Linked DNA regions of Homo sapiens: regions 2, 3 and 4 are each reported to be linked to region 1. The links are microRNA targets in miRTarBase. Many come from high-throughput screens and were not tested one by one. Region 1 holds a microRNA gene; each other region holds the end of a gene's coding sequence.

Region 1 (8,308 bases):
ATATGGGTGTCTACATGTGAGGCAAAGGCAGGCACTCAAACAGATCCACAAATGGACAGTGACCCCCACCCCATGCACCCATGCCTCTGTTCCTGCTCTTGGTCTGGCTGCAGGACACACACCTCCTCTACGTACTGGCAGCTGCCAACCTGTATGCCCAGATGCATGGGCTGCCTGGCTCACAGGACTGGACTGCACTCAGGGAGCTGCTGAAGCTGCTGCCACAGCCTGACCCCCAACAGATGGCCCCCATCTTTGCTAGTAATCTAGAGCTGGCTTCGGCTTCTGCTGAGTTTGGTGAGGCTCCTGGCCCTGGCCCCTCATGCTGTCTTTCAAAGGCCTGAACCTGTCCTGTCCTCAGCCTGTGCTGCAGAAGGAAGATAGGGCCTAGGGGATCTACAGCCAATTTGCTACCTCTCAGGCCTCCTAACCTCACTCCTCCATAGTTTCAGGCTTATCCTCTGGTCCCTCAGTAGGTCTTCTCCCTGCTGCCTACCCCACATCCCAGTTCTTGTGGCAGATTCTTGGCAAAATAAATAAGTAAATAAATAAAGTCCATTGGTTCCTGGGGAGTGTCTAGCTATGGCCTGCAGGTGAGGACAGGGTCACAGAGGTCATGAGCACACATGGGTGAAGACTGGGGCTTCTAGAGGGGAGATTGTAGCATTAATTAAGGGGGCTTCTTGATTTGATCAGGGAATAGTAAGTGACAGGCTTGGCAAAGACCAAGAATAGGCACAGGGCTCCAAGAAGAGTGCAGGAGACAGGGGCTAAGGACTGCCTCAACATCCCCTCCCCTGACAGGCCCTGAGCAGCAGAAGGAACTGAACAAAGCCCTGGAAGTCTGGAGTGTGGGCCCTCCCCTGAAGCCTCTGATGTTTGAGAAGGTGGGTGCCCAAGTGGCAGTGAGGAGTGGGGCTGGGGAGTTTGTGGAGAAAGGTCAGGAGCTAATAAGGTAGTTTTGGAGCCCCTTGGCCTGAATTCTCCCAGCAAGACCCTGGAAGCAGCTCACATTCCCTGAACCTCAGCCTGTCTGATCAAGAGGAGATGTGGGGCAACCCCCCGACAGAACTGTGTGGAGACTTGTGCAGTGACACGCAGTGGGCCACGGTGAGGGGCACAGCTGCAGTGTTAACACTACTTTGACTTGGGCCTTACAGGATGATGACAGCAACTTCCATGTGGACTTTGTGGTAGCGGCAGCTAGCCTGAGATGTCAGAACTACGGGATTCCACCGGTCAACCGTGCCCAGGTAACCCCACCCCTTGAGGCTTGGGCCTGGAGGTGGAGGGCAAACCCTGGCCCTACGCCTTGGGCCCAGACCAAATCTCTTGTCCTTGGCAGAGCAAGCGAATTGTGGGCCAGATTATCCCAGCCATTGCCACCACTACAGCAGCTGTGGCAGGCCTGTTGGGCCTGGAGCTGTATAAGGTGGTGAGTGGGCCACGGCCTCGTAGTGCCTTTCGCCACAGCTACCTACATCTGGCTGAAAACTACCTCATCCGCTATATGCCTTTTGCCCCAGCCATCCAGACGGTGAGCCCATGATACCCCACCCTTAGCCCTACTAGGCCTGGGTTTCCCCTGCACCTGCCCATACAGGCCCCAATCTAGCTGCCGGCTCTCACTGAAACTCAGACTGTGCAGAAGTCCTGAAGACTCCCTCCAGCCCTCTTCCTGCTATGAAGCCAGGCTGGGACCTGTCAGACACAGGAAGCAGCCGTCAGCCATCCCCACCCCCAATCCTCCAAAGCCCAGGATCTGGGGGAGCTGCAGCTTTAACTCATTAGTGGAGCCAGACATCCCCCACAGTCCCCTCCTTCCTTGGAGTACCCCTGAGGGGTAGGTAGTGGGGAGGGGACCAGGGCATCAGCCCCAGAAAGAGTCTAGCTTCCCCCTGCATGGTACGGGGGCCCTGGCCTACCTCCTACAAGCTGAGTTAAAAGGTAATAGGCTTGCCACTAGAGGTGTGGGGTCTGCAGCCCTGAGTGTATTTGTGTCACAGTTGTGAGTGCAACTGGGGTCTGGGCATCCCCGGAGTGTGGGTATGGAAGGAGCAAGTTTGCACATCTGTGCATCAGATGGGAGTGCAGGGCTCCCATCTTCCTGTGTCCTCAATGTGGGCATGCATGGAGATGCATGTGGGCACACATGTGTGTGTTCCTGGGCTTGTGGGCATTTGTGTTCCTGTGACTGCAGCGCTGTGAATGCCTCCAGCCTTGTGCCCAGGCTCTGCAGTTGGCATTTCCTTGGGGCAAGGATGAGGGTAGAAGGAATGCCCTCATGAGGGGAGAGGGCAGAGGTCATGGGCCAGCACTGGGTTTCTGCTGAGCAGCCTGGGGTCCCTCTGGACTAGCACACAGAGCCCCTTTGTGAGGCACCCTGCCTCTAACCAGCATACAGGCTGCCTTTGTCCACAGAGTGAAGCAGGTGAAGGAGAAGCCCCCATCTCACCTCTAGCCTAGTCTCAGCTTGACCCCAGTGTGTTTTCTCAGGGGCTGATAAGCACCCCCTGTCCTGGTCTCTAGATACCTGCCAGCCATCCTTCTGTCCTTAGCTCTAGGTCCCAGAACCCCAAGACTCTTGGAAGGAAGGAAGGGACAGGAGGAGGAAGCCTCTATGCATTGTATCCCTGCTGGGGTCTCTGGGACAGTGGGGCCCTGGTGGTCACTGTGCCCTTTGCCCCTGTGTCCCAATGAGTAGCCCAAGGCACTGGCAGTACATACAAGATTGGGGGACAGGATGTGCCCCCCAGCTCCCAGCCTTGTCTTTGAGGAACAAGCAGCTTTATCAGAGGCTGCAGGGGCCCTGCTCTGGGTTTCCTCAGGAAGCACCACCCCCTCATCCCCCACTCTCACAACTGGCCCATGTGATGGATCGTCTGTTTCCCTGTGCGGGCCCCATAGCCCCATTTCCTGTGCTGGCCCCGGCCTGGACGGGGAGGGGGCTGAGACTCTGGGCCCAGATCCCACCTCCCCCCCACCCCCCACCCCCTGGCTCCTGTTTCCTGCTAGTCCAGCTCTTCCCCTAGGAAAGGCTGCTGGTAACTGGGATGGGGGTTGGGGGGAGGTAAGAAGTCTCTGACTCCTCCTCTACCTCATCCCAGTTCCATCACCTGAAGTGGACCTCTTGGGACCGTCTGAAGGTACCAGCTGGGCAGCCTGAGAGGACCCTGGAGTCGCTGCTGGCTCATCTTCAGGTGTGCCCTGTTGCTACCCCAACCCCCAGGCTCAGCCCAGCCCGGCCCAGCTGGTGTCTGACCTTTCTCCTCTAGGAGCAGCACGGGTTGAGGGTGAGGATCCTGCTGCACGGCTCAGCCCTGCTCTATGCGGCCGGATGGTCACCTGAAAAGCAGGCCCAGCACCTGCCCCTCAGGTGAGCCCACTTGGGGCTTTAGACAGGCCCCACCAGTCCCTGGAGGCTGGGGCTAGGGACCACACTGCCTTTTGTCTTCCCAGCCCCATTCTGGGCCCCTCACACCTTCCCAAGCATTCTTTCCCCAAATGGAGCCAGCAAACAGGCTGGAGGTGGGGTGAGGGCCGAGAGCCTGAGGAGGAGTCTTCAGGAGCTGCCTATTTGGCCAGCCCCATGGGCTCCCCACATGCTGCACAGCCCCCCTTTCACAGCCCACTCCCAAGGGACCCATAGCTTCCTGCCTCCTGCTTGCCTCATCAGCTGCTCCTAAAATAGTTTCAGATGTTTCCTGTCTTGAGCAGCTCCTGCTCCTGGCTTGGGCTCCTGACGGCCTGCCAGCACCCTCTCTAGTCCATGCCAGGCTGCCTTCTGCTTGCCATGGCTCACCTCTCCAATCTCCCCTAAACCCACCCCTACCAGGGTGACAGAACTGGTTCAGCAGCTGACAGGCCAGGCACCTGCTCCTGGGCAGCGGGTGTTGGTGCTAGAGCTGAGCTGTGAGGGTGACGACGAGGACACTGCCTTCCCACCTCTGCACTATGAGCTGTGACAAGGCAGCCACCCTGTCACCTAGCTCAATGGAGCCCCGGATCCCAAGCCCTGCATTGTAAGCCCACAGTAGGCACTCAATAAATGCTTGTTAAAGGAAGGCATTGCAGAGAGGATGGACGATAGAAAACAGTGCACTAATGCACACGGGTGTGACATGGGCATGACAGGGACCTTCACACAGAGAAAAAAAGCTCTTCAGAAGATTTGTCTCCCTGGGCAGTGCCTCACAGGGCTGGGGCTGCCTCTTAGTGCCTCAGGGGTATGGAGCCAGGACAGTCTAGAAAAAAGGCTTTTATTGTCCCAGGCTGGAGGGCAGGGTCAGAGGTAGCTGACATCATTGCAGATGATGGGCTGGCGGCTACGACAGCTCATGAGAGCTGCAAAGCGTGAGACATCCGCAGGCAGTTCAGGTTCTGGGCGAGGTGGGCATGACAGCCGCTTTCCTGCCATAGCTGTCCGCCGAGCCCTGGCCAGCCGGCGCCGAAGCTGCTCAGAGAGGCCAAGCAGGAACTGAGGGGGCCGAGCACGGGCACGGTGCCCACCTCCGTCACCCCCTTCACTCCCTGTCTCAGGCAGCTCCATCCAGTTGTGCACCAAGTCAGCAAAGCAATTGTCCCCTAGTACCAGGGGCTGGCGACTGCGACCCCTGTTCAGTAGGGCTGCTGTCCAGTCCTCTGCTTCCAGTCCCTGCCAGTGCTCCAGGCAGGCGTCTGGGGTGGACTTGGGCCGTGGATGGTGGACAGGTGGTACACTGGCTACAGGGGCCCTGCTGGGCATGGGGAGGCCACTGACTGAGAGGCACTGCCTACGAAGGGGCTGTGCTGAGGGTGCTGGGCGCTGGGATACAGGCAGTTCTTCCTCTCGCCATGTGCTGCCTGACACCTCCGAGAAGCCAGAGTCCCAGTCCAGGGCATGCTCCCTGGGGCCTCCCAAGGCTGCATCCCTGTCTTCTGTCACCACTGCTTCCTCCTCCTCCTCTTCCTCCTCCTCCACACAGCAGACTGAGTCCTCTTCCAAGGCACCCGAGGCCCTAAGCTGGTGGCTGGGCTGCACATCTGGGCCAGTTTGGGAGGTTGGCTGCAGGGGACCAGGCATTGAGGGTGAGCCTGTGTCCCGACCACACAACTGAGGGGAAGAGAGGGCAGAAGTCGGAGAGGTATCACTTGTCACCAGGCCAGCCCAGAGAACAGAGGGTCCAGGAAGGTTAGATAGGCCTGCTGGCCTGGGCAGCAGGGTGTTAGTGAGCACAGGGCAGGCATAGGGGTGCTGGCACTCGAAGCTGGTGTGGTTCTCATCCACCGACCTGGTGGCAGTCTGGCAGGCTGCAGCATGCAGGGCCGGGCAAGTCGGCACCCGCCACCAGGGCGGGCGGGCAGGCAGGCAGGGTTGCGGGCCTGAACGGGGAAGTAGGTCCTGCCCAGGACTGGAGGGGCATCCCGTGCCTATTGGGGGATTCAGCTCCCAAAGCCCAAAGCGTCTTTCACAGAAAGAGCGCTTGCTAGGTGAGGGGTAGAGAAGGGAGGCATAGGCCAGCCTGAAGTAGGGGGCGTTCACAGCAGCGCCAGCACCTCGTTAGTCCCTTGCCGCCCCATGCCCCGCCCCCAAAGAAGTCCCCCTTCCACTCTCTCCTCCCGCGCCGTTCCAGCAGCACGGCCAGCTGGATGCTGTTATCTGATGCTCAGCTCAGTTCCCAACCGTCCGAAACCCGACGCGGGCCATCTGAGCCATATGCGCCACGCCGCCCCCACCCCGCCTCGGACCGGCACGCTGGAGCCACCCCGCACCCGTCTGTTGTTCCGGCCGGGCGGCAGCCTGGCATCCCGCACGCGTCCTCACTAACCACACCCGCTCCCGAGCCTCACCAGTTCCCAGCGGAGCTGGCTAAGGAAGCTGTCAAGCCGAGCGCTGTGCATGTCCATGCCAGGGCCCCCACCGAACCTACTAGCTCCTCTTGGAACCCCGGCGGAGCCGCGCGGAGAGGGCTGGGAGGGCCGGCCAGCGGCGCCCTCAGCCTCCGCCTGCCTGCGCGACTCCTCGCTCTCCGTAGCTCCCGCCGCCGCCGCCCCGACATCTGGCAGCCGCGCCCCGCCCCGGCCCCGCGGCCAAAGGGGGCGGGGCTAAAGCCCGGCGTCCCTCCCGACTCCGCCGCGGTTCTGGGTGGGAAGGGCGGGGTCATAACTGGAAGCCGGACGGGGCCGGTACGGGGACCCCCCGAGCCCCCAGACTGTTGAGTGGACCCTGCGTTTGCTGCGTGACGCAGGACAGGTCGCCTCCGTGCGGGGGCCTCATCCTCCCCGTTTGTTCAATGGTGAAATAGCGGTCCCTCTCACGGGGCGCCGTGCTGCGTCCGCACATAGGCAGAGCACCCCGGATGGTCGGACCCAGAGAGGTTGTGGACCCTCGGGGCCTGACCCACGGGACCCATTCGTGAGGCTGGCCTTGGCACTCCCTGAACGGGATGGAAGTGGGGTTCAGCCCGTCTGAGGACTCAAGAGAGGGCGGGACTTTGTGGCAGCGCACCGGCGGGGCCTCAGCCGCGTCCCAACCGAGCTAGACGGGACTGCCCTCTAGTGGGGAGTGCTTGGCTAGTCGCGAGTCCAGCGGCGACGCGCGACCGTCGGCATTCCCTTTGCCGGTACCAGGTGCAGACTGAGGGTCGGTGCTGAGGCTGCTCTATCAACACAGGCTAGGCTCAAGGGTAGTGTAGCTGCAGACAGACTGGACATACCAGCAACAGGAAAATACCAGGGAATGAGGGCCGTGGGCTAGCTTGGGGAAAGTCAGTCTCACAGGAGGTGACATCAAGATGCAATCAAGAAGAGGGGCATTCTGGCCGGGCGCGGTGGCTCACGCCTGTAATCCCAGCAGTTTGGGAGGCCGAGGCGGGCGGATCACGAGGTCAGGAGATCGAGACCATCCTGGCTAACATGGTGAAACCCCGTCTCTACTAAAAATACAAAAAAAATTAGCCGGGCGTGGTGGCGGGCGCCTGTAGTCCCAGCTACTCCTGAGGCTGAGGCAGGAGAATGGCGTGAACCCGGGAGGCGGAGCTTGCAGTGAGCGGAGATCGCGCCACTGCACTCCAGCCTGGGCGACAGAGTGAGACTCCGTCTCAAAAAAAAAAGAAAGGAAGAAGAAGCAGGAGGAGGAGAAGGAGAAGAAGGAGAAGGAGAAGAAGGAGAAGAAGAACATTCTAGGCAGAAGGAGCAGCCAGGGAAGAGACCCCGACGGACAGGAGCTGGACAGGGCCAAACATAAAGAAGGCCCAGGTGTCTGTGATTGGTGGTGGTGGCAGGAGGGAAAAGGTCAGCAAAACCAGGCTCTAACGGCCTTAGAGCAGAATGTGGGTTTTGTTCTTGGTGTGATGAGGAGCAATGGGGGCCTTTGAGCAGGAATGACCTGGGCTAGCCCTTGTTTAGATAATCCCAGCTGCTTTCAGAAAAGGATTCTGCAATAAGAGTGGAAGTCCCTGCCCTCATCCAGGCAACGAAGGGGAGGGCCTAGGCCTGGGCAGGGCAGGTGCACTGAAGGGGGTCACTTTGGGGTATGTTTTGGAACTAAAATCAAGTCTTGCTGATGCATGGATGTGGGCAGGAAAAGAGGCATCAAGCATGACTCCTACATTTCTGGCATTAACAGCTGGTTGGATGAAATTGCCATAAACTGATCTGGGAAAGACTGGAGAAGAGTGGGTTTGGAGAGGAAAATCCAATGATCATTTATGGACACGTAACCCTTGAGATGCCTGTTAGACATCCAAGAGGAGTTGCAGAGTCAGCTGCTAGGTGTATGACTCTGGACTTCAGGAGAGAGATCAGCACTGGAGCCTTGGATCTGGGAGGCATAGTGAGTGAATGGATGGTATGTAAGGCCATAGGCCTGGATAAGGTGGGGTGGGAGGAAATCAGTGTAGTCAGAGGGAGACAGCAATCGGGACTGTGCCCTGGGACATTCCATGAGGTGGAGGTAGGGGAGATATGAAGCAGAGCTATCAAAGAAGCTGAGCAGGAACAGCCAGGAGAAATCTGAGAATGTGGGGACTCAGGACCCAAGGGGAGCAAGCATTGAATGCTGCCTAGGCAGTGAGGGTGAAGAACAAACCACTGGATTCGGCAGTGCATAGGTCACTGGGAACCCTGACAAGGGCAGTTTTGTGTAGAGAGGGACAAGCCTGATTAGAGTGTGTGGAGAAGAGAGTGAGGACTGAAGAACTGGAGATGGCAAATAAAGACAACCGTTTTTGTTTTTTTTTTTGAGACAGGGCCTCACTCTGTCACCCAGGCTGGAGTGCAGTGGCATGATCTTGGCTCACTGCAGCCTCCATCTCTGGGGCTCAAGTGA
Region 2 (4,000 bases), not on the chromosome of region 1:
TGTGTGTGTGAATGTGTGAGAGTTATGTCCTGGTTTTCAAGTATGAATGGCCCAATTTTAGACAGTTATCCTGGGAGATGAAGGAATTACTAGCTGTACCCAGTATCCTCGAATTGAGTCTAATTTATGGATTCTCTCCACAGAAAAATGTACGAGTATAAGCAAAGCATGCTGCATAAAATTTGAGGGAGTTCACAGACATCCCGCCTAGGTTAAGAATCCCCATGCTAGACATCTCTCAGATCTTTGGTAAGTCAGGGTCACATGACCTTCCCAGTATCAAGTCCAACAGGACAGGAGGCAAGTACCTGAGGATGTCATGGTGGCTTAGAACTTGCTGTGCCCTGCCAGGAATAGCACAGATAATCCTGCCTCCTCCTTGAGCCATCACAGTTAGCTGTGAATAAATCCCCACAGAGAAGAGGTAAAGCAGCCTGGATGCAGACCAACCTTCAGTACTAACGATCCTCCTTTCCATCTGCGAGGCAGAAGCACTTCTCACACCTCATTCTTTTCCCATCCATTCTTCATCCTTGCCTGTTTCATTCCCTCCCTCTGCCAAAGATTGAATACGCCTCTTTTTAAACCCTTTCTCAGGGCTAGGGTCTAGGAATACAAATGTGAATAGAACATGGCTCCTCTAATTTATTAAACAAACTTACTGAATATTTACTGAACCCAATGCTCTTTAGTTTTTACAATCTACACCCTAGTGAGGAAACATGCATGTACACACATGGGCACACACCACTGGCCCACAAGCCATTCATGTGTATACAATCATAACGCAACATAAAAGGAGGCTATAATTGAGAGATATGTAAGCAACTATCGAAGCGGAGACTGTCTGCCTGGGAAGGTGAAATTGATTCCTGTTTCCAAAATCAAATAGGAATTTTCCAAGCAGACAAGGGTGGAAGAGGGGACAACATGTGCAAAGCCATTCAGGTGCCAAAGAACATAGTAGTGGCTGAGCCTCAGAAGCATGTGCCAGATCAGCAGGAGTTACAGCATGAAACACAGGGAAAGGCCGAATCCTGGATGTCCTCAATTGCCACATAAACGCATGAGTACTGACATAGAGCTTCTGGAAGGCTCTAGGCAAAAGAATGAAATGACAGATTTTGACTTTAGAAGGCCAACTCTGATGACAGAATGAAAGATGGGTTAGATGAGGACCTAATGAAAAACAGGAAGATCATTTGGGCAGGAGGCTCCTGAGTGGTGCTGGTGAAGGCTAAAAGAGGGTCTAAATTCTAGAGGGGTGGTAGGGAAAGAGAGGAAGGGCAAATATGAGAGATTCAGAAGACAGCATGGGAAGAAACTGGCAAATAATTAAATGGGTGGGAGTGGGGGGTGAGGGAGGAGTCATTAGGATGACTGCCAGTTCCTTCGAGCAACTAGAAATGAAGGCGACCAAATACAAGGTTGCATGGGGGAAGATAACGAGGCCTGAGGGACATGGGGAGTGTGAGGGACTGTAAGATAAATAACTGTTGATGCCCACTCTGGTGACAGGACTGCAGGTCAAATGAACACACACTATTTGTCCATTCCTGGTTCTAAACTCCTCCCTTACCAAATTTGAAATTGAAATCCGTATGTGCATGTTGCCAATCTTCTGTGGAAAAAATAATTCTTTATAAAACTCTCTACAGTGAGACAGATCCTCTTAAATATGAAAAGGCCCACTTGTGTTGTGGGTAACGATGAGAAAATCATCTTCGTGCGAAATTTGCCTTTCTCTTCCCTTACATCATAGCTGACTCCGCCAAGACCACTATGATCAAGTTTTTATTCCTCCTCCAACCCTCCACTGCAACTTTTGGCTGTACAAGACGAATACTTCCATATGGTGCAATGTTTATGTTAAGATGGGGGAAAATGTGAGATGCTTTCAGTAAATTTTATTCAAGAAGTAATAAATTTATACATTCTAAGCAGCTGGAACAAAATATTGGTCTGTAATTGATTCTGAATGAAGTGTTTTTCAAAAGGAACAGAAAACTTGGGGCTATTTGTTAATTACTGATGTTTAGAGATCTTGGGTGCTGTCATGCAGCCCTCTCTGGCTGTGACCTCAGACATATGATTTGACATGTTGAATCTCTTTTGCCTCATCTGGAAAATGGGTTTAGCAATTTTACCTACTCATAGGGTTTTTGTGAGGATTAAATCAGCTAACACAAGTAAAGGGCTTGGGATAGTACTCATTATGTAGCAGACACTCAGCAAATGTTAGTTCTTTTCTTTTTACCTATTACCTATAGTCTGAGTCACAAGAGAAGGGGAATAGGATGAGGATGGGGGTAGGAAGGAAGGACTGAGAAAGTGTATGAGAATGAAGTTTTAAGGATTTATCTATAAAAGAATGCCCACTGCCACCTCAGAATCTGTAGAGACAAGGGAGCTGTGTGAGTACAAGTGATTCTTTAAAAATATTTTTTGGGAAGCAGGTGTGGGTACGTGAAGCCTGTAAAACCAGGAGTTTTCTGATATACTTTTGGGATCATCATGCATTTTTATAATTATTGAAATCACTAGAACAAATGAGAGCAGGAGGGGAGAAGGCAAGTCCTAAAAAACCTGTCTAGAGGGGACTATTTAACATGCAAAAACTACCCCATGTCTGTGTGAAACCAATGCACAGAATTTATTCTATTGATGCATTATTATTTTGGACAAACTGCCAACTTTTGTTTTAGTTTTTTAGTCACTAAAGCACAATGATTTTTTAGAATAATTTTTAATGTCTTCTGTTTAGTCTTTACATTTACAAAGCAATTCTATACCTTTCTAATTTAATACTGATAAAAACCAAGCAAAGTAAATATTAGCCCTATTTTAAAATAGCAAATATTTGGTATACATTTACTGTGTTCCAGGTACTGTACTAAATGCTCTGTGAGGCATGTCCCATTTAATTCTTCTGACGAACCTGCAAAGTACGTACTATTTCATCATCTGAGGCTAGAAAAGAAAAGTTAAATAACTCTCTTAAGATGACCCAGAAGTAAAGAGCAAAGCCAGGACTTGAATCCACATGAGTCTGACTTCAAAGCCCACTCCTAACTCTTAACCACTGTATTCTGCTATTGAAGGATAATGAGATAATGCTCTTTCCCAGTATGGCAATGTATTTGGTTTGAACTCAGCCTAATTAATTACAGTCATGTAAACAACTGTTGTGAAATTATACAGAAACATTAAACTTTTTGATCTCTATTTCTATATTATGTTCCTAGAATTGCTAGAGACAGATGCACATCTTAATGTACATTTTCCTCTCTAAGGTTATGAGAATCTGGACAAGACCAATAATTGTTGAATAAAGTTTCCAAATACCTAAAGTACTTGGTAATAGACTAAGAATCTGTTTCTTGTTTATCTGTAATCAGTTTAATAGTTGCAGGTAAGAAAATTTAAGCACAATTTTAGTGAAGCCTAGCCACCAAACTTTTGACCAGTTCAATAATGCAAAGGACAAAACCTGTTCATAAAAATGAATTTTTAATTTCATGAGCATAAAAAAAAAACCCAAACCTGTCCCATACCCCTCCCACTCATGCAAACAGCTCTCAAATGAGATTCTTCAAATTTTACGTTTTTTCCATTCTGGCTCATTCTTTGCTTCCTCATCATCAGATTCAACTTGGGCAAACATGGTTTTGGGCTGAGTCCTAAAAGAAAAGTTAAAGAAGAGAAGGAAAAATTTAGTCAGAAAGTATTTGTTACATTAGATTTTGCTTCCTTCATCAAGTGGGAGCAAATGTGGGGAATAAATTACAACTCAATTATTAAATATAAATCATTAAACTTCTGGCAAAGAAAAAGATAATGGAAATTTAATTATGTTCAGGAAAAGAGCAAAAGATTCTTTTAAAGATTTACCCTCTGTGGCAGACTGTACATACACACTGTTCTTTCCTTAAATAAAATGAAAATGCATCAAATTCAGTGGAACTTCACCCATCCTAACCACCCTCCACCTGAAACTCTG
Region 3 (8,308 bases), not on the chromosome of region 1:
CATGCATTGCTAGTGAGAGTGTAAAATGATGGAGCCATTGTGGGAAAACAGTCTTGCAGCTACTCAAAAAGCTGAACATAGAGTTACCACATGACCCAGAAATTCTAATCCTATGTAATATCCAGGAGAATTGAAAACATGCATCCAGGAAAAGCCTGGTACACGAAGGTTCATAGCAGCACTATTCCTAATAGCTAAAAGGTGGAAACAACGCAAAAGTCCATTAACAGATGAATGGATAAACAAAATGTGACATATCCTTACAATGGAATATTAGTCAGCCACAGAAAGGAATGAGATACTGGTATATGCTACAACATGAATGAACCCTGAAAACATTAAGTGAAAGAAGTCAATCACAAAAGGCCACATATTGTGTGATTCTATTTCTATAAAATGTCCAGCACGGGCAACTCCATAGAGACATAGAATCGGGGGGAGTTGCCAGAGGCTGGAGTGAGGAGGAACAGGGAATGGCTGCTAGTGGGTATGGGTTTGTATGGGGAGTGATGAAAATGTTCAGAACTTAAATAGTGGTGATGGTTGCACAATTCTGGGGATATCCTAAAAAGCACTGCATTATATACTTTAAAATGGTGGATTTTGTGTTATGTGAATGGTATCTCAATTTAAAAGAGACAGAGAGATTGAGAGAATGAGCCAGGCAAGTCGGGGGAAGCATGGACTGTAGCACGGCAGGACTGAGCGCTGAGCAGCCCAGCCATGGCCCTAGTTAGGAAACAGTTCCAGCCCCTGAGTAAGTCCACAGGTTTGTGGGTTTGAAAGTCTACAGCACTGGGCCAGTGGAGAAGAGGGCTTTGACTCCTGGACTTCCTCCTGTGGCCAGGGCCCAGGGGTGCCTGAGTCAATGGCTGAACCTCCTCACCCATAGAGGAGTTACCAATTATACGTCTCTAAGCTAATTTCATTTCCCTGAGGACTTCTGCTGACCAGTTGTTAACACTGGATGATCCCAGCGCACTCACTGCTGCAGGCTTTCTCTTCAGTGGCCTCTTGAATCACGGTGTTCAGACCTGGCCCAGGGGCTCCACATCGCACCATCACACTGACCTCCAGCTGCTCTAACCCTGTCGGAGAAATCACGGCCACCCGGCGCAACTGACTTTCTGCTCTCTGACTTTTGTGGGCTCTCACTCTAGCCTGAACCTTGGAGATGTTTGTTACAGGCCGCATCAGGGCTGGGGCTGCAGGTCGGCGGGGGCTGCAGGGAGCTACAGGGCCCAGTAGCCGGCATGTCTCCTTCAGTGGTGCTCTCTGCCCCTCTCTTCCACAGCTCTTGCAATCTCAGGATGTGAAGGAAGATGCTGTCCTTTGCTGCTCTATGGAGGTAAGCTTTGGGGCTTCGACATCCCCAACCTCAAAGCCGGTGCATCTCTCATGCCTTAACAGTTCTAGGGGCACGAGGGTTGTTGGAGGCATTTACAAGTCCAGGGGAAGGTAGGTGGATGGCTTCAGGAGTGGGCATGGACTTCTGCATCCAGAATTATCCACCCCAAGCCAGAGTGAACACTGATGGTGAGAGCAGCTCACCCCTGACTGAAGGGAGAGAGAAGTGATTCCCAGTGGCATTGCCTACTTCCCTGTCCCCCAAAGACCCCCTGCGCCCCAGCTCAGGCATGCCACACAAATGACTTAAGAAGTTCCTGATTACCTCTGCCCTCAAATATTTCCCTTTGCTTTGCTAATGCTTGGCAATGCAGTGCTGGCACAGCCCACCCGAAAGCACACCTCTTGGGAGGTGCCACTCCTGTCCCTAAGCTGTGGCCCCTGCTAATGGAGACTCTTCCTCTGGGCTCTCCCTTTAGCGCCTGGCTTTGGCCCAGTCCCTGGGCAGATCTCTGCCCTCTGCAGATGGTCCAGAGTCACTCAGAGTGGGATGCAGGCAGGAGAGGGGCTTCCAGACGAGGACCTGGGCCTGGCAGCTGTCATAAGCATACTCAGGTGGCTTCCGCCTGGCTGCAAAGGCCTCACTGAGGAGCTCAGAGGCCAGAAGCACTGGGAGCCAGATGGCAGTCTTGGGTCTGTGGGACTCAGTTTGTTTGTTGGCCTCCAGCTGGGCACCCTACAGGGGGCTTGGGATTAGGGGGGAATTAGGGAGAAGGAGAAAGCCTGGTCCTTGCCCTCAGGCAGCTTCCAGTCTGGTTAGGAATAGCTCTCAGAGAGTAGATAGAATAAGTGTAAGTACAGAGACATCCCTGAAGAGTCAGGGGAGAGAGGTCAGGAAGGGCTCAGGGGTTCAAGGGAGGCTTTGTGAAGAAGGCAGAGACTAGAAAAATGAATGGGACAAGGCTGGGGACCGAGACGGGGACTGAGATTCTATAGAGAGGGCCTGGGGGGCACTGGCCAGGGGTGTGCTGGTCCAGGAATAGGGGCTCCTTCCCAGTGGGCTTTTCAAGATTATCTAGGGCTCTCCTGACGGCCTCTGGCTGGCCTTCTTCCCCAGTTTGTATTTCTCTCCCCCACTTCCTGTCACAAGCATGAGCAGAGGTCACTTCTGGGGGCTGGGAGATGGGATCAGGATCAGGAGAAAAGGAGAGCGAGAGAAACAGGAGGCATCACCCCTGCTCTCAAGTTCCAATGGACACATGTAATAATGACTAAGCTCATTGCCAGAGAGACGCCCCAGCAAGTGAAAATGACCACAGGGCCCCCTGATCACCAAGGGGCACAGATCATGGAGCCATTTGAGGGTGCGGATGTAGTCAGGGAAGGCTTCCTGGAAGAGGGAGGCTCTTGGGTAAAAGGGACAAGAGGCATGTTCCTGGTGACAGCTCTTTCAGCCCTGGGCAGTAGGCAATATTCGGATCCCTCTGGATCCTGCTGGCAGATTGGTTGGTAAATGTGAGCTCTCACTCTTGGCTACTCCACCTTCCACTCTCCCTGTCCTCATTCCAGCTGTGGCACAGGGGTCTGGGCCTGTGTGTCCTTAAGACAACCCAGCTATTTCCTATCCCTGCCCACCTAATCAGGGTGGCCAGTGGGCCACTGTGGGACCCGAGGCCATCCTAACCCCACATCTCTGTCTGCAGCTGCAGAGTACAGGCCGGCTGCTGGAGGAACAGCTGCCTGAGATGATGACAGAGCTCCTGGCCAGCGCACGGGACAAGATGCTGTGCCCCTCGGAGTCCATGCTGACCCGGTCGCTGCTCCTAGAGGTCATCGAGCTCCACGCTAACAGCTGGAACCCTCTGACGCCCCCCATCACGCAGTACTACAACAGAACCATCCAGAAACTGACAGCCTGACAGCCAGGGGGCCTGGCAGGCGGCCCACGGGCAGCTGGGGCCCTGGTGCACAGGGCCAGATGGACAGGCGGGAGGACAGGGGTGGCCCTGGCGGGAGAAAGAAATGGGGAGGAGGGCAGGCAGAGTCGGTGGCCAGTCTGGAGCCAGACGGGGAAGGGAGCAAATCCCTGAGAGGAGTGCCCCCGCACAAGCCCCCCAGCCCGAGCATGCAAGCTCACACCAATAAGGGAAGCATGTTTCTTTTTCCTGGTGGCCCTGGCCCTCCCCTTCCTCACTCCCGCCTCTCCCCTCCCCATCAGACCCATCCCCCACGGAGCTTTGTGTGAGGGATCTCATCGCTGTGACTCCTCGGAGACCTTGGCAGCCTCGCACGCCGGGGCACCGCTTGGGTCAGAAAGGACCTCGGAAGGCTGAAAAAGTGGGTCGGAGACGGGCTCGCATTGTTCCCGCATGCTGTCAGCCGCAGTCGCCAACTGGCAGCAGGCGACGTGTAGCAGATGTCCGGGAGGACAAAGGCAGGCACGGTCCCCACCAGCCGCCCGTAATTGACGGCCTTTGTCAGCCATGGCAGAGCTGACGCTCCACCTCCCACCTCCAAGTCCTCCTCACTGCAGCCCCCACAGCCTCAGGCCTAGGGGGTCAGGCGCAGCGGGGGAGATGGAGTTTGCAGTTCCACTTGCACTCTTTTGTTTATTGTGTTTTATTTTTCAAAAGTCGGTTGCTTTGAAGTCTCTTTGGCCAATGAAAATGCCCGTGATGTGATCACACAGTCAGCACTGTTGAGGACCCCCGGATTAGTGGGAGATCAAACCCAGCTCCCCTCTAGAAGAAGGATTCGAGCCACAGACAGCTTGCCAGTAGCCAATTAGGGTAATTGGAAACTTCTGCCCCGGCGGGGGGTCCCCGCTGGAATCCTGTGTTCCTCGCCACTGGCTTCCAGCGCCTCTGTTTTCTCAAAGGGCTGATACTGTCACCACTGGGACCAAGTTAAACCTGGTCCTGGCCCCAGGGGCCTTGTGGCAAACAGGGCACAGAACGAGACTGGCAAATTAAAACCAAAATTCTAGATGGTGTCTTGCGCTCCACACGCAGGTCTTACTGGGGAAAAGGATGGGAGTGGGGGCTCCCCAGGACTCGATTTTAGCTAATGCGCTGTGTCACTGCCCCAGCTCGGACGTAGAAGCCCAGCCCTCCGTGAGCTCTTGGGAAAGGGGTGAATTCACTGGGTCATGGAAGGGACAGTCAGGTGACCAGCGGGGTCGCCAGATGAAGCTTCCCAGCCGGGAAACAAGACGGGGTTTCTTGGCAGGCCCTGGTCCTGGGGAGCAGGCCCTGTTGTTGGCTGGAGAGGAAGGTGTGGGGTGGAACAGGTGTCCACATAGCTCCATCTCTGGGGGCTGGAGCACACACTTTGATGAGCCCCCCCGGAAATGATGTCAGAGCCTAGCCGCTTCCTTATTTGCTCTTTTATTGAGGCCGGGCAGGCCCTGGGTCACTTTGGAGGCCCCTCTTGGTCCACACTGGACTGGCCGGGAGGTGATGGGCGGGGAAGGTTCTCGTGATTGATTGATTCTGAGTCTGAGAGTGGCGAGTGGGGAGAGGCTTCCCCAGTTCTCTCCAGCTTTCCCTGCAGCTGCAACCTGCCCTCTGGTCCCAGGTGTGGAGCCTTTGCCTGTCTCTAAAAAGAGCCTGTTGGCGACAAGGTGTAGGGGGCACAAGTTTACCTGAAACAGGTCAGTGGTCTCTCCCAAGAAGCGCACGCCACCTCTGGTCCCTGGCCCTGAACCCTGCCTTCTTCCTCCCTCCACGGTTTCTTCCCAGACTTTCTCAAGCTCCTCCTCACTGCCCTTCCTCCCCAGCCCAGCCTGGGAACACAGATGCCCCGCGGGTAGGAGGCCTCGAGGGAGGAGCCGGGCTGATGCGGGGCTGCTCAGGGCAGGCCCCAGGGCGAGCTTGCCATCGTGGCCAGGCAGCCTCCACCTGTGCTTCAGTGGCCCCTGCCCCCCTGAAGCATGTGGGGTTTGTCCGCTAGGAGGAGGCAAGGCCCCCGAAGAGAGGAGAGACCTGGGAGTGGGAGCTCAGGTCAGGGAGGAGGCAGGGGAGTGGGGTCTCCCAGACCCAACGGTGAGCTCAGAGCAAGCTTCACGCAGGACGCTCCGAAACACTGTGTGGAGGGGGCTGTGTTGTGGGCACCTTGGGGCCTGATTCTCCTTCCTCCGAACGGGCTCCTTGATGGCCTGGCCACAGGGGCAGCTCCCCATTGGCTGTTAGGACCAGAGTGTGAAGAAGAAGTGAAATATAAATATGTATACATATATAAATATATTTTTAATTACATGTCGTGTCACGGTGGCTCCAGACATACTGTTTGCCTAGTTTATTCCACTGCTTGAAAGCGCTTCCTAGCCAATCTGAACAACAACACTTTAAGCTGTTTTTCTAAATGCAGGTTGCTGCTCCTTTTTCAGATATGGAAGGAAAACGTTAAGACTATTTTTTTTTTAAAGAAACAACAGTCAAGCCTAAAATTTGAGACCCCGAGGCAGCTTCCCGAGGGAGACTGCTCAGACAGGAACTGCAGGACAGAAGTGGATGCCCCACAGACCCTGGCCCCCTCCCCAAGTCCATCCCCTCTCTGTGGCATGAGGAAGGCCGCGTCCGAGTTGACCTCTGAATGTATGTGATGAGAGGCAGAGCTGGATATTGCATTTCTAAGGCTTGCATTGCTTTCCCCTCGCCCGCGGTTCTTGGCGCATGGAAGAGGCGGTCCAGCCATCTGATGTTGATCCTGTCTCAGTCTCCCCACTGCCTGTCAGGATGAGTTAGTCATTGTTTTTCTCCGAGGCGGCCTGCTTGCCACAGCCCTGCTCCCCAAGGCCTGGTGGCTTTGCCGAAGCTCTGGGACCGCAGCCCCAGCGAGGCCCCCAACCTCACCCAGACGAGGCCAGGAGCCCCGCCACCCTCCACGGGATGTGCACCCTCAGACCCCATTCTCTCTGTTCGTCCTTCCTTGACCAGTCTGTAAACCTTCACTGTTTGGGGATCGTCCTGTCCATCCATGTAAATGTAAATGTTGGCCGAGTCGGTATTTATTCTGATTGATTTTTATTTTATTCTATTATTTTCTCCGAGGGATGAGGGTGGGGGGTGTGGGAAGGGTACCACAGATCAGGCCGGGGCAGCTGTAGGGGCGGGGGCCCAGACAGCCAGGCCGCCACCAGAGCAGCCCCATGGGGTGCCCCAGACGCGGGCCTCCAAGAAGCCAAGTCCCAGTCTGTTTTCTGGCATCAGACACCGGCCCGTGTTCCTTGTCAGACAGACAGACTCTCAGGCCTGCCTGGGGAGTCGTGTCCCTCAGCTGCAGGGCACTGTGTTGGGAAACCATTGGCTGGGCCTTTGAGGACACAGATCAGAAGAAAGAAAGACAACTTTCCTCTGCGCGGAACACTCACACGGAAGGGCTGGCCGCCTCCCTGAGCCGGCTGGGAGTGGACGACAGGACCTACCTCCCCAGAGCAAGGGCCTGGGGCTTCCCGCCAAAGCTGCCGCGGAACCCCGCTAGTGCGACCACCCTCCCTCCGTCGGTATGTCCTGCTTTCCAGCTGAACCCAAACTACAAGTGGGTTTAAAAAAATAAACACCACCACCAAAAACAAAATGCCCAGAGTCTGTGCTCTTTGTGTGTTCAGCAAAAGAAACCTTTTCCCCAAGCTCATGTGCCTCAGCTATACTAGCAGGGCCTCCAGGAGCTGGCCCAGGAGATGAGCTGAGGGGAAGATTCTTGCAAGAAGTTGGTCCAGGAGACCATGGGTGAAGGAGACTTACTTACATCCCCCAAAACTGGGAACTAACTATGACCTATCCAAAGTGACCTGGACCTGTCCAGGATCAAGCCAGTCCTGGACAAAATGGCTTTTGCACTAAAGGTTTGGTTTAACCAACCCCCCCCAAACCTACCCCTTCCCTGGAAATGTCACTGTGGCATTTGGCAATGAGTCATTTCAAGAGGGCTGAGATTTGGGCCCAGTGGCTTTCAAAAGTCAACAGCGAGTGGCTGTCCAGTCCCAGTTGGTCAAATGAGTCTTTCATCAACGAGTCCCCAAAGGGCCCAGTGATTTCTTTTCCTGTGATGACATGTCTCTTGTTTTGCACAATCTTGTCTATGGCAAGGCACTGGGGACACTGTTTCCTGGTAACGCTCCCCTTTCCTTGGGGATTCTTTCTGGCTAGAACTTGCTGGTCCTTCAGCTCCTTGCAGGGGTCGCACCAGAGCACCAACTCCCTTCCTCCTTCCCTGGCCTGGCTACAATGGCGGCCAGGGCCTCCCAGGAGCCGGGTGAAGGCATGTTGAGATTCGGGCCTTGCCCTTCACTGAGTCACACACCCACCATGACACTGACAGGGACAGCCAGAAGTCCACAGACTGGGTAGAGAGAGAGAACATTTTAATTAAACAACTGAGGTATGTGGCGGGCCAATTTTTTTTTTTTTTTTTTTTTTTTTTTTTTTGAGATGATGATGGACTCTCGCTCTGTCACTCAGCCTGGAGTGCAATGGCACGATCTCAGCTCATTGCAACCTCTGCTTCCCAGGTTCAAGCAATTTTCCTGCCTCAGCCTCCCAAGTAGCTGGGATTACAGGCACACACCACCACGCCTGGCTAATTTTTTTTGTATTTTAGTAGAGGTGGGGTTTCACCATGTTGCCCAGGCCGGTCTTGAACTCCTGAGCTCAGGCAATCTGCCTGCCTTGGCCTCCGAAAGTGCTGGGATTACAGGCATGAACCACCGCTTCCAGTCCTAATTTTTGTATTTTTAGTAGAGACAAGTTTTCGCCATGTTGGCCAGGCTAGTCTCAAACTCCTGACCTCAAGTGATCCACCCACCTCGGCCTCCCAGGGTGTTGGGATTACAGGCGTGAGCCACCGTGCCAGGCCCAAATTTATTTTTATAAAAATGCAAAGCAGTAGAAGCAGACATTGGAGGTCAAGATCAAAGGTAGGGCGACGATGAGGAACAGAGAGCCTTATCACACCCTGCAAA
Region 4 (8,308 bases), not on the chromosome of region 1:
TCTTTCTTTTTTCCTTCTGTATTTTTTGGAGGCGGAGTGTCTCTCTGTCGCCCAGGCTGGAGTGCAGTGGCACGATCTCAGCTCACTGTAACCTCTGCCTCCTGGGTTCAAGCGATTCTCCTGCCTCGGCCTCCTGAGTAGCTGGGATTACAGGCACGCACCACTACACCCCGCTAATTTTTTGTATTTTTAGTAGCGACAGCGTTTCACCATGTTGGCCAGGCTGGTCTCGATCTCCTGACCTCAATTCAGGGATGACATTAATTCCTTCTTCATAGGGTCATAAAGATACAATGAGTCCAGACCTGTAAAGTCGAAGCATGTGAATGGATGTATAGCTTCCAAAACATGAACCTCCAGTCGGAGCTCCTGGGGCCAGCCTGGAACAGAGCTGACATCTCTCGGCCTCTCCTTCTGTGTCTCCCTCCGGTCCTGTGCTGCCCTTTTCTGCCCTTGGCTCTGTGCCTCTGCAGCACTTGCCGCTCGCTCCCTGGGCTTGTGGGGGGATCTTTTCCTTAGCTAGCACTTTCTCTTTTTCTTCTCCATATATATAAAGAAGGCTTGGAAAATTGAAGGGGAGCCCCACCTAAAAGCTAACCACTCCTCACATAACAGTCATCTTACGCTATTTTGTGCCTTCAGAGCCGGGATTGTGTCCTCTACACCCATGTGTCCCTGGTACCCAGAGAGCATCTGAGCCTAGGGCTTAAGAGCCCAGGTTGAAGTCAGCCAATCCTTAACTCCTCCATTCATGAGCTGCGTGATCCTAGGCAGGCTCCTCAGCCTCCACGCCTCAGTCTTCTCCTCTGTAAAATGGAGATGACACTGGCACCTATCTCATGGGATTGTGGGGAGGATCCTATGAGGTCATGTAGGTAAAATGCTTAGCACAGTGCCTACACCTAAGAAGTGCTGTGTAAATAGTAGCTTCTATTGTTGTTGCTGTTAAAATTAGAACAGAGCAGAGCTGGACACGGGGGATGGGCTGAGTCATTGTTTATTGAGAGAATGAATGAATCAACTGTGGGAGAGAGTGGAAGCTCGGGGAGCCAGGACTGGTGTCACTCTCTCTCCCTCCGCCAGGTACGAGCGGCTGGAGGAGCAGCTCAACGACCTGACTGAGCTTCATCAGAACGAGATGACGAACCTGAAGCAGGAGCTGGCCAGCATGGAGGAGAAGGTGGCCTACCAGTCCTATGAGAGGGCACGGGACATCCAGGTATGGCCAGGGCAACCTTGGGAGGCCCCAGATGTGCTGGTAGAGCTGGCAGCAGCCAGAGGGTTAGGGTTCTTGTCACGTGGGGCATGATAGACACAGGCTGGCCTGTTGGCCGGGGCCGATAGGCACATGGATGAAGAGGGCAGCGTAGCGGGAGCGGAGTGGAGTGAGCAAGACAGGCCTGAGGCTGACAGCGTGCACTGTGCAGAGGCAAGCCCACAGGGCAGAGGCCACCATGCCCCCCACCTCTTTGATGGCAGCTTCGCAAATGAGTATTTGGAGTTTCCAGGCTCCAGCCTGCCTCAAGAGGGAGCCAGCTGGGATTGGGCCAGCTCTTTTCCTTCCCTAGTAATCAAGACTCTCATTTCCTAGCATCCTCCCCAAAGAGTCATCCTTAAAGGTCTCTGACCCCAGTTGCAGCTGGTCAACCTCCACTCCTCCTGGCCTTTGGAGAGGAGACTTCGTTATAGGCACCTTCTCAGTGGGGTAGGTAGGTTTTCAGCCTAGGGGTCCTGCCCATCCTGAGCGCACACATGCCAGCCCCTCTGCCCCTGCAGGAGGCCGTGGAGTCCTGCCTGACCCGGGTCACCAAGCTGGAGCTGCAGCAGCAACAGCAGCAGGTGGTACAGCTGGAGGGCGTGGAGAATGCCAACGCGCGGGCGCTGCTGGGCAAGTTCATCAACGTGATCCTGGCGCTCATGGCCGTGCTGCTGGTGTTCGTGTCCACCATCGCCAACTTCATCACGCCCCTCATGAAGACACGCCTGCGCATCACCAGCACCACCCTCCTGGTCCTCGTCCTGTTCCTCCTCTGGAAGCACTGGGACTCCCTCACCTACCTCCTGGAGCACGTGTTGCTGCCCAGCTGAGTGGCCAGCCACACCAACCCTGTGCTCTCTGGCCCCCAGCTGGCCACACTTCTCCAGGAGGGACCCTTGGACTTCTTTGTGTGTCCAGTTTGGCCTCCTGCCCAAACTGTCCATTCCAGCAGCTCCTGCCCCCTTCTCTGTACTTGCTTCTGTCTGACACCTTCTCCCTGTTGGCCTGAAGGGAGCTTAGAATGCAGCCCTACCTGGAGATAGTGCGGGCACCTGTGGCCAAGTGGAGCAGAGGTGGACATGGGGTTGGATTGTTTTGATTATTTATAGTTACACAAGGACTTCTCCCAGCTGACCCTCAGGATGCCCCAAGTCAGGAAGACCATTAAGAATAGGAGGAGAGGGCTCTGCCTCAACTTTCCTAGGAAAGAGCCCACCTCGGAGATAGCTACGGTTTTCTCTGGTGGAGATGGTGAGGATGAAGGCTGGAGAGTGAGGGAGGAGGCTCTGCTGGCCGCAGAGAACACAGGGATGGGAGGGTCCCTAGCCTTCGGGCACCTCCAGGGCCAGAGAGCAGGCTCAGAGCAGCTAGTGTGGAGCTCAGCATCCCCACCCCACCCCTCCTCCCTGTAGAGCTGATTTGAGGCCTCCTTCTGGGGCTGGGCTCTGCAGGCCAGGTGGGTGTGGCCTGTGTTTTCCCTTCTGTTCTTTCTGCCTGTACTGGATCTGTTATTTTCAGGGAAACAGGCCCCAGGGCCCCCCTGAGCCTCACCCTAAGCCCTTAGGCCTCTGAGAGTGCTGTTGGGTTCTATTTATTTATTTATTTGTTCCTTTGTTCCCTACCCGTGCCCCCAGTGTCTTCCCTGCTGAGTACCAGGAGAGGTCCTGCCCCATCCTCTCTCTGAAGCCAGGGCCCTTCCATTCCATTTAGCCTTTGGATCATCCTGGCTGGGAGAAGTGGGACCGAGCCACCCAGCCCCACTATCCCCAAGCAGCCCTACAGCCGGGATGGGAGGCACGTGGCCTCTCTTTTATCCGTCTATTTATTTTGTAAGTGTATTCGTGTGGAGGAGGTTGTTGCTTTATTTTTTTAAGGCTCTGGAGTGTTGTGTATGGTTTCTTTTCACATCCCAGCCTCCCATGGGCACTTCTAAGAAGAGAGGGGATTTCTTGGAAAAGGAGAGAGGAATCCCCTAGAGCAGGGAAAGCAGTGCCTGCCAGCTGTTGTGCACCTTCCTGAGAAATAAATATCCTCTAAATTTTCAAACCATCCTGTCTGGTGTTGGTTGATTAGGTTGTGTCTGTGGGAACCACCACGTCTCTCCCCACACCCAAGCATTCTGGGTAACACAGGCTAGGCCTCTCCTGTTGACCTGAGGCCCTCTTCCTCCAGAATCCGACAAGGAACAAGGCATGGCCTAAGCGGTATGATAGAAGGGATGATATCCACCCCATCCAGGCCTCTTAGAGTCCAGGCAAAGGCAATTAGGAGAGAGATTTCCATAGCTCGGAGCAGGTGAGCCACCAGCGGCCTGAATGGCAGCAGCCATACCCAAGTGAGGCCACGAGAGGGCAGCAGAGTCCTTACGCTAACACTTTCTCCCGGTGCAGCCCCAAAGAAGGCAGCTGCTGGAGTTAGCTTGGTTTTCTCAGAGCCGTCAGCCAGAGCACAGAGCACCTGCTCTCCAGGTGCTGGAGCATGGGCTTGAGTGTAGTGACCAGGCCCTCTGTGGCTGCAGCACCCACTCCCGGCAGTTCACACAGATGGGCACCCTAGATGGCACTGCACTCCCAGCAGTAACCCTGTGGGGGTTTAGGAGAGGCCACCTGAATCTCCCTGCTGGGATGAAAAGATGCTGACTTCCAGCATCTGGAACAGGAGGGATGGTGGGAAATGCACCCACCCCAGAGACCTGGGTCCTGGCCCATAGTGAGTAGATGGCAGCCAACTCACATCTCTCTGCACCTCAGTCTCCACATCAGCGGTAGAGGATGTGCAGCAGCTCACTTCGAAGGGCTTGGACATTCTGCAGTTCTGTGGGTCTGACAAATCAGAAGTTGCCGCTGTACTTGTGGCCTCAGGCTTGAGGAGACAACAAGAGTCAGAGACAGTGCTGTCACCAGATTGGAGAGAAGGCTGTGCTGGTGCCACGGGGGGTGGCATTGGTGGCTCATCCTCACCCTCTGCACAATGTAAGAGTTTCACTAGGTGACCTTGCCGGGGCCTTCCAACAGTGTCATTCCTGGACCCTACACTCACCTCCCTTGGGGGCCACAGGTGTCCTAGAGCCCACATTCCTGGGCCCCAGGTGGGGGGTGGCTGCCCCAGGCTGCAGACATTTCCCACATTCCTCCCCAAGGTCAGGTGCCTTCCCTGAATTAAATGTCACTGCCAACAACAGCCCACACTGAAAGGGAGGAGGAAAAAGGGAGGGAGGGTGGCGGCCATGCTCAGCTGATCCTGAGACTGACAGCGAACAGAGGAGGTGGGGGAAGACCAGCCCCAGCTACACAGGGTCATCTGCAAAAAGGACAGAACACCAGCCTGTGTTTGCCTTATCATGACAACGTGTCTAATAAAGCCCTGCCTGTCTGGGACTCTGATGGTCACTGATGCTTCCTTGTTTGTGTTTGAGCCTTCTCGCCCTTTAGAAAAAAGGGGGTGCGGCCCGGCATGATGGCTTACGCCTGTAATCCCAACACTTTGGGAGGCCAAGGTGGGTGGATCACCGGAGGTCAGAAGTTCGAGACCAGCCTGACCAACATGGTGAAACCCCATCTCTACTTAAAATACAAAATTAGCCGGGCGTGGTGGCACATGCCTATAATCCCAGCTACTTGGGATGCTGAGGCAGGAGAATCACTTGAACCTGGGAGGCGGAGGTTGCAGTGAGCCAAGAGTGTGCCATTGCACTCCAGCCTGGGCGACAAGAGTGAAACTCTGTCTCAAATAAAAAAACAAAAAAAAAGAAGGAAAAAAGGGAGTGCATTGCCCCCACTTCAACCTGGCCTCCTTTGCTGGGGACCGTTCTTCAGAATGCAGGGCCAACAGGCAGGTCCTTCCCAGAGCATCTGTCATGCAGGTCCCAGCCCCTCACCTGAGGGTCCGGAGGTCTCAGCCAGGCTGGTATGCTCCCCTCAGCCTGGGTCCACTACAGAGGGAGTAGCTAAGAATTCATGTTGAAGTTGGCACGTTACTGCTCCAGCAGCACTGAGCAGGCAGGTGGCATGTTTACCATGCCCGTGCAGAGCTGGCACTCCCTGCCAACCTCATCAAAACTGTAGGGCTACAACAGGTGCAGCCCTGGCAAACAGCAAAGCAGGCAGACAGCACAGGCCAGCAGGAGGTGACTTAACCCCTGCCAGCACAGGTTACTCTGGAGTGGTTCTGAGCTATGGAGGGAGGGAAGGGAGGAGGAAAGACTTGGGGCCACAGGGTGGGAGAGGAGGGGAGCTGCAGCCTGGGCACCTGGAGGGATCTTCATGGCAGGTTCAATTTCCCTTTCAAAGCCAGGGCCCTTAAGTCAAGTCTGGATCCCAATATTAAGGAGCCAGCAGACCTAGGCTCAAACCCCAGTGCTGCCACTCACCTTGGACAGGGTTCCAGCTGCTCTCAGCCCAATCTCCTCATCTTCCAGGAGGAATGGAGATGACATGGCACTGGCTCACAGGCTTGGGTGCAGGAGACTTGACATTCTGCAGGTCAAGACTTAAGCACAAGGCCTAGAATATGATGGATTAACCCGAGACTGGACTTATTACTGCTCCTCTTTCCTGAGCCTGTAAGATATTAAGATGCAGAAGAACTCTTCAGGGAAGTCTAAGGCCGACCCCACAGGAACATACAAGGCCAAGGGTGGCTAAGTGAGCCTCAGCCTCTGATTCTGGAAAACCTAATAGAGGTCCTTAGGGTTCCTCTTCCCTGGGAACCCAGAGCCTGCTTATTCCCAGCAGCCTCTCCCCTCGGTCTGGTAGACAAAGCTGGTCCAGTCCCAAGAGGCCAAGCCCCAGCTTGAGAGAGGACTGGATTCAGCCTATTTGACCCAAGATGGCTGCCAACACCCCAGCTCCACAAGTGTATCAGTCTGTGGGTCCCTCCCGCCTCCAGCCCATGGTCCTGGGTGTGGGGTCTAGGAAGGAGAGCAGGAATCAAGATGCCTGCTTTTGAGTTGAGACTGTGGAGGTTGTGGGCCTCAGTTTCCCCAGCTGAAACATGGGGATAATCATATCCGTGCTGCCCAACTGTTAGGACACCGGTGAGGCTCGTAGGTGTCAGCTATGAGTGCCTGCCCCATGACACCCCAGGATCTCACTCTAGGGGAATGACCTGTTAGAATGCTGCCAGCCATCTGGGGCCCCCAGGGAGGGCTTTGATCTGCCCAGGGACAGGGCTGGGCAGGGCTTGGGAAAGCAGCCAGCAGTGACCCATGGGCCTGACGGCTTGCAGCCAAACTCCAGATGCAGATGGAAGGAGGAAGCTTGGTCCCCACTAGGCTGCGGGGAGGCATGTGGGGAAGGAGGGGAGGCTGAGACTTGTCCCAGCACATTTGGGCCTGCTGGCAGGTCCTGAGTCACTCAGCCAGAAGAGCAGTCGGGGTGGTGACAGCAGCGATGCCCGCCAGACACAGGGCCTCCCAGGAGAGCACTCCCGCCTTGGTCCCCCCATACCCCAAGGCTCGACTGTCCGGATGAAGCATCCTGGGCCCAGCGGTGCCACCTCAGCCATGCGCCTGCCTCCAGGCAGCCATCCACTAAGCTGGCTCTGATTCCAAAAGCCCCAGAGGTGATCCTGAGAGGTCTGGGTGCCCAGTCTCGGCGCCCTGCCAGCCTCAGCTGAAGGTTCTCTTGTTGCCCTTACTGTGTTTTTTTGTTTTGTTTTGTTTTTAAGTGAAACAAATTATTTCAGTTTAATTTTCTCAGCATGTATCTGGCATTAAGTAGTTGTTATAATTTTTTTTCCATAGGTTATTGGGGAACAGGTGGTGTTTGGTTACATGAGTAAGTTCTTTAGTGGGGATTTGTGAGATTTTGGTGCACCCATCACCCAAGCAGTGTGCACTGTACCCTATTTGTAGTCTTTTATCCCTCTCTTGTTGCCTTACTTTGATTTTTTTTTTTTTTTTTTGAGACAAAGTCTTGCTCTGTCGCCCAAGCTGGAGGGCAGTGGCACGATCTTGGCTCACTGCAACCTCCACCTCCTGGGTTCAAGCTATTCTCCTGCCTCAGCCTCCTGAGCAGCTGGGACTACAGGTGTGTGCTACCATGCCCAGCTAATTTGTTTTTTGTTTGTTTGTTTGTTTTGTTTTTTTGAGACGGAGTTTTGCTCTTGTTGCCCAAGCTGGAGTGAAATGGAATGATCTTGGCTCACCGTAACCTCCGCCTCCCAGGTTCAAGTGATTCTCCTGCCTCAGCCTCCCAAGTAGCTGGGATTACAGGCATGCGCCACCATGCCTGTAATACTAATTTGGTATTTTTAGTAGAAATGGGGTTTCTCCATGTTGGTCAGGTTGGTCTCGAACTCCCAACCTCAGGTGATCTGCCCACCTCAGCCTCCCAAAGTGCTGGGATTACAGGTGTGAGCCACTGCACCCAGCCTCATTTTTGTATTTTTAGTAGAGACTGGGTTTTACCATATTGTCCAGGCTGGTCTCGAACTCGTGACCTCAGGTGATCCACCTGCCTCAGCCTCCCAAAGTGCTGGGATTACAGGCATGAGCCACTGCGCCCGGCCACTTTGGTTATTCTTGCTGTGATCTCAGCTCCCTGAAGATAAGTCTCAAGTAAACACTTTAGAAAGATCTGAGTGTTTCTCTGGCTGGTCTGGGGCTCTGTTCTTTGCTCTCCTGTAGGAAGAGTGAGTCCTCTCCGTACCACCCTAGTTAAGAAACCATCCACTCCTACCTGGCGCTGTCTCCAGCTATTACTTAACTGGGGTCCCTCTGTCCTTTTTCTAGTTGGGGTCAGCCCCAGTCACCCATACTGAGCGTGGAGATGGAGAAGAGAGGATTTCCCATGAAACTGGTCATTAAATGAACTCATGCAAGAGACAAGTCACCAACACAGACCTGATGTCTCTCTGACCGGCATCCTCCTCTCGAGCTTCTCAGCCAAGTGTGGCCTGGCCTGGCCAGGCCAAGGGTGGGAAGACCTGAGTGATGGGATTCCGACTTCTGAGAAGGAAAAGGCCAAGGAGGGGTTCCCTTCCTTCTTCTTCATTTTCTCCTCTGTTGGTCTTGAAGCTCTTATCATGGTTTGGCAGCCATGGAGTCCA

Evidence for each region. Region 1 holds the annotated microRNA hsa-miR-5193 (UCCUCCUCUACCUCAUCCCAGU, at 3,087-3,108, shown strand). A microRNA usually pairs through its seed, bases 2 to 8, with sites in the 3' UTR of a target mRNA and lowers its output. Matches are read on the target gene's strand: a 7mer-m8 pairs with bases 2 to 8, a 7mer-A1 pairs with bases 2 to 7 and ends in A, and an 8mer does both.
Region 2: miRTarBase lists WDR70 as a target of hsa-miR-5193. The part of its 3' UTR that is shown has no 7-base or 8-base seed match.
Region 3: the mRNA of CTIF is a reported target of hsa-miR-5193. Seed matches in the 3' UTR shown: 7mer-m8 at 3,375-3,381, 7mer-A1 at 5,297-5,303, 7mer-m8 at 5,299-5,305 and 7mer-m8 at 5,355-5,361.
Region 4: the mRNA of TMCC2 is a reported target of hsa-miR-5193. Seed matches in the 3' UTR shown: 7mer-A1 at 2,431-2,437, 7mer-m8 at 2,536-2,542 and 7mer-m8 at 3,105-3,111.

The regions. Positions count from the first base shown.
Region 1 is chr3:49,800,965-49,809,272 of GRCh38, reverse strand. It overlaps MIR5193 (microRNA 5193), which reads left to right and starts at 3,028; the gene lies at 3,028-3,136. INKA1 (inka box actin regulator 1) reads right to left here and starts at 6,012. Exons shown (of 2, transcript NM_203370.2): 1 at 5,830-6,012; 2 at 4,243-5,092. The coding sequence starts at 5,880. The coding sequence ends at 4,286. UBA7 (ubiquitin like modifier activating enzyme 7) reads left to right here. Exons shown (of 24, transcript NM_003335.3): 18 at 114-297; 19 at 805-887; 20 at 1,161-1,253; 21 at 1,346-1,537; 22 at 3,108-3,200; 23 at 3,276-3,376; 24 at 3,836-4,064. The coding sequence ends at 3,965. It also overlaps a transcript of CDHR4 not described here. RefSeq lists enhancers at 1,237-1,296, 1,447-1,496, 971-1,867, 2,497-2,776, 2,763-3,057 and 1 more and silencers at 5,736-6,175, 6,566-6,615.
Region 2 is chr5:37,752,166-37,756,165 of GRCh38, reverse strand. WDR70 (WD repeat domain 70) reads right to left here. Exons shown (of 18, transcript NM_018034.4): 18 at 2,731-3,680. The coding sequence ends at 3,593. Among named protein-coding and RNA genes, the nearest start is that of GDNF-AS1, 86 kb to the left of the region's middle.
Region 3 is chr18:48,856,294-48,864,601 of GRCh38, forward strand. It overlaps CTIF (cap binding complex dependent translation initiation factor), which reads left to right. Exons shown (of 12, transcript NM_014772.3): 11 at 1,295-1,348; 12 at 3,051-6,924. The coding sequence ends at 3,266. Among named protein-coding and RNA genes, the nearest start is that of CTIF-AS1, 19 kb to the left of the region's middle. RefSeq lists enhancers at 1,413-1,914, 6,075-6,626.
Region 4 is chr1:205,270,037-205,278,344 of GRCh38, forward strand. It overlaps TMCC2 (transmembrane and coiled-coil domain family 2), which reads left to right. Exons shown (of 5, transcript NM_014858.4): 4 at 1,084-1,219; 5 at 1,777-3,307. The coding sequence ends at 2,088. Among named protein-coding and RNA genes, the nearest start is that of TMCC2-AS1, 37 kb to the left of the region's middle. RefSeq lists enhancers at 1,677-1,821, 4,024-4,605, 4,606-5,188, 5,797-6,456, a cis regulatory region at 1,749 and a silencer at 3,485-3,779.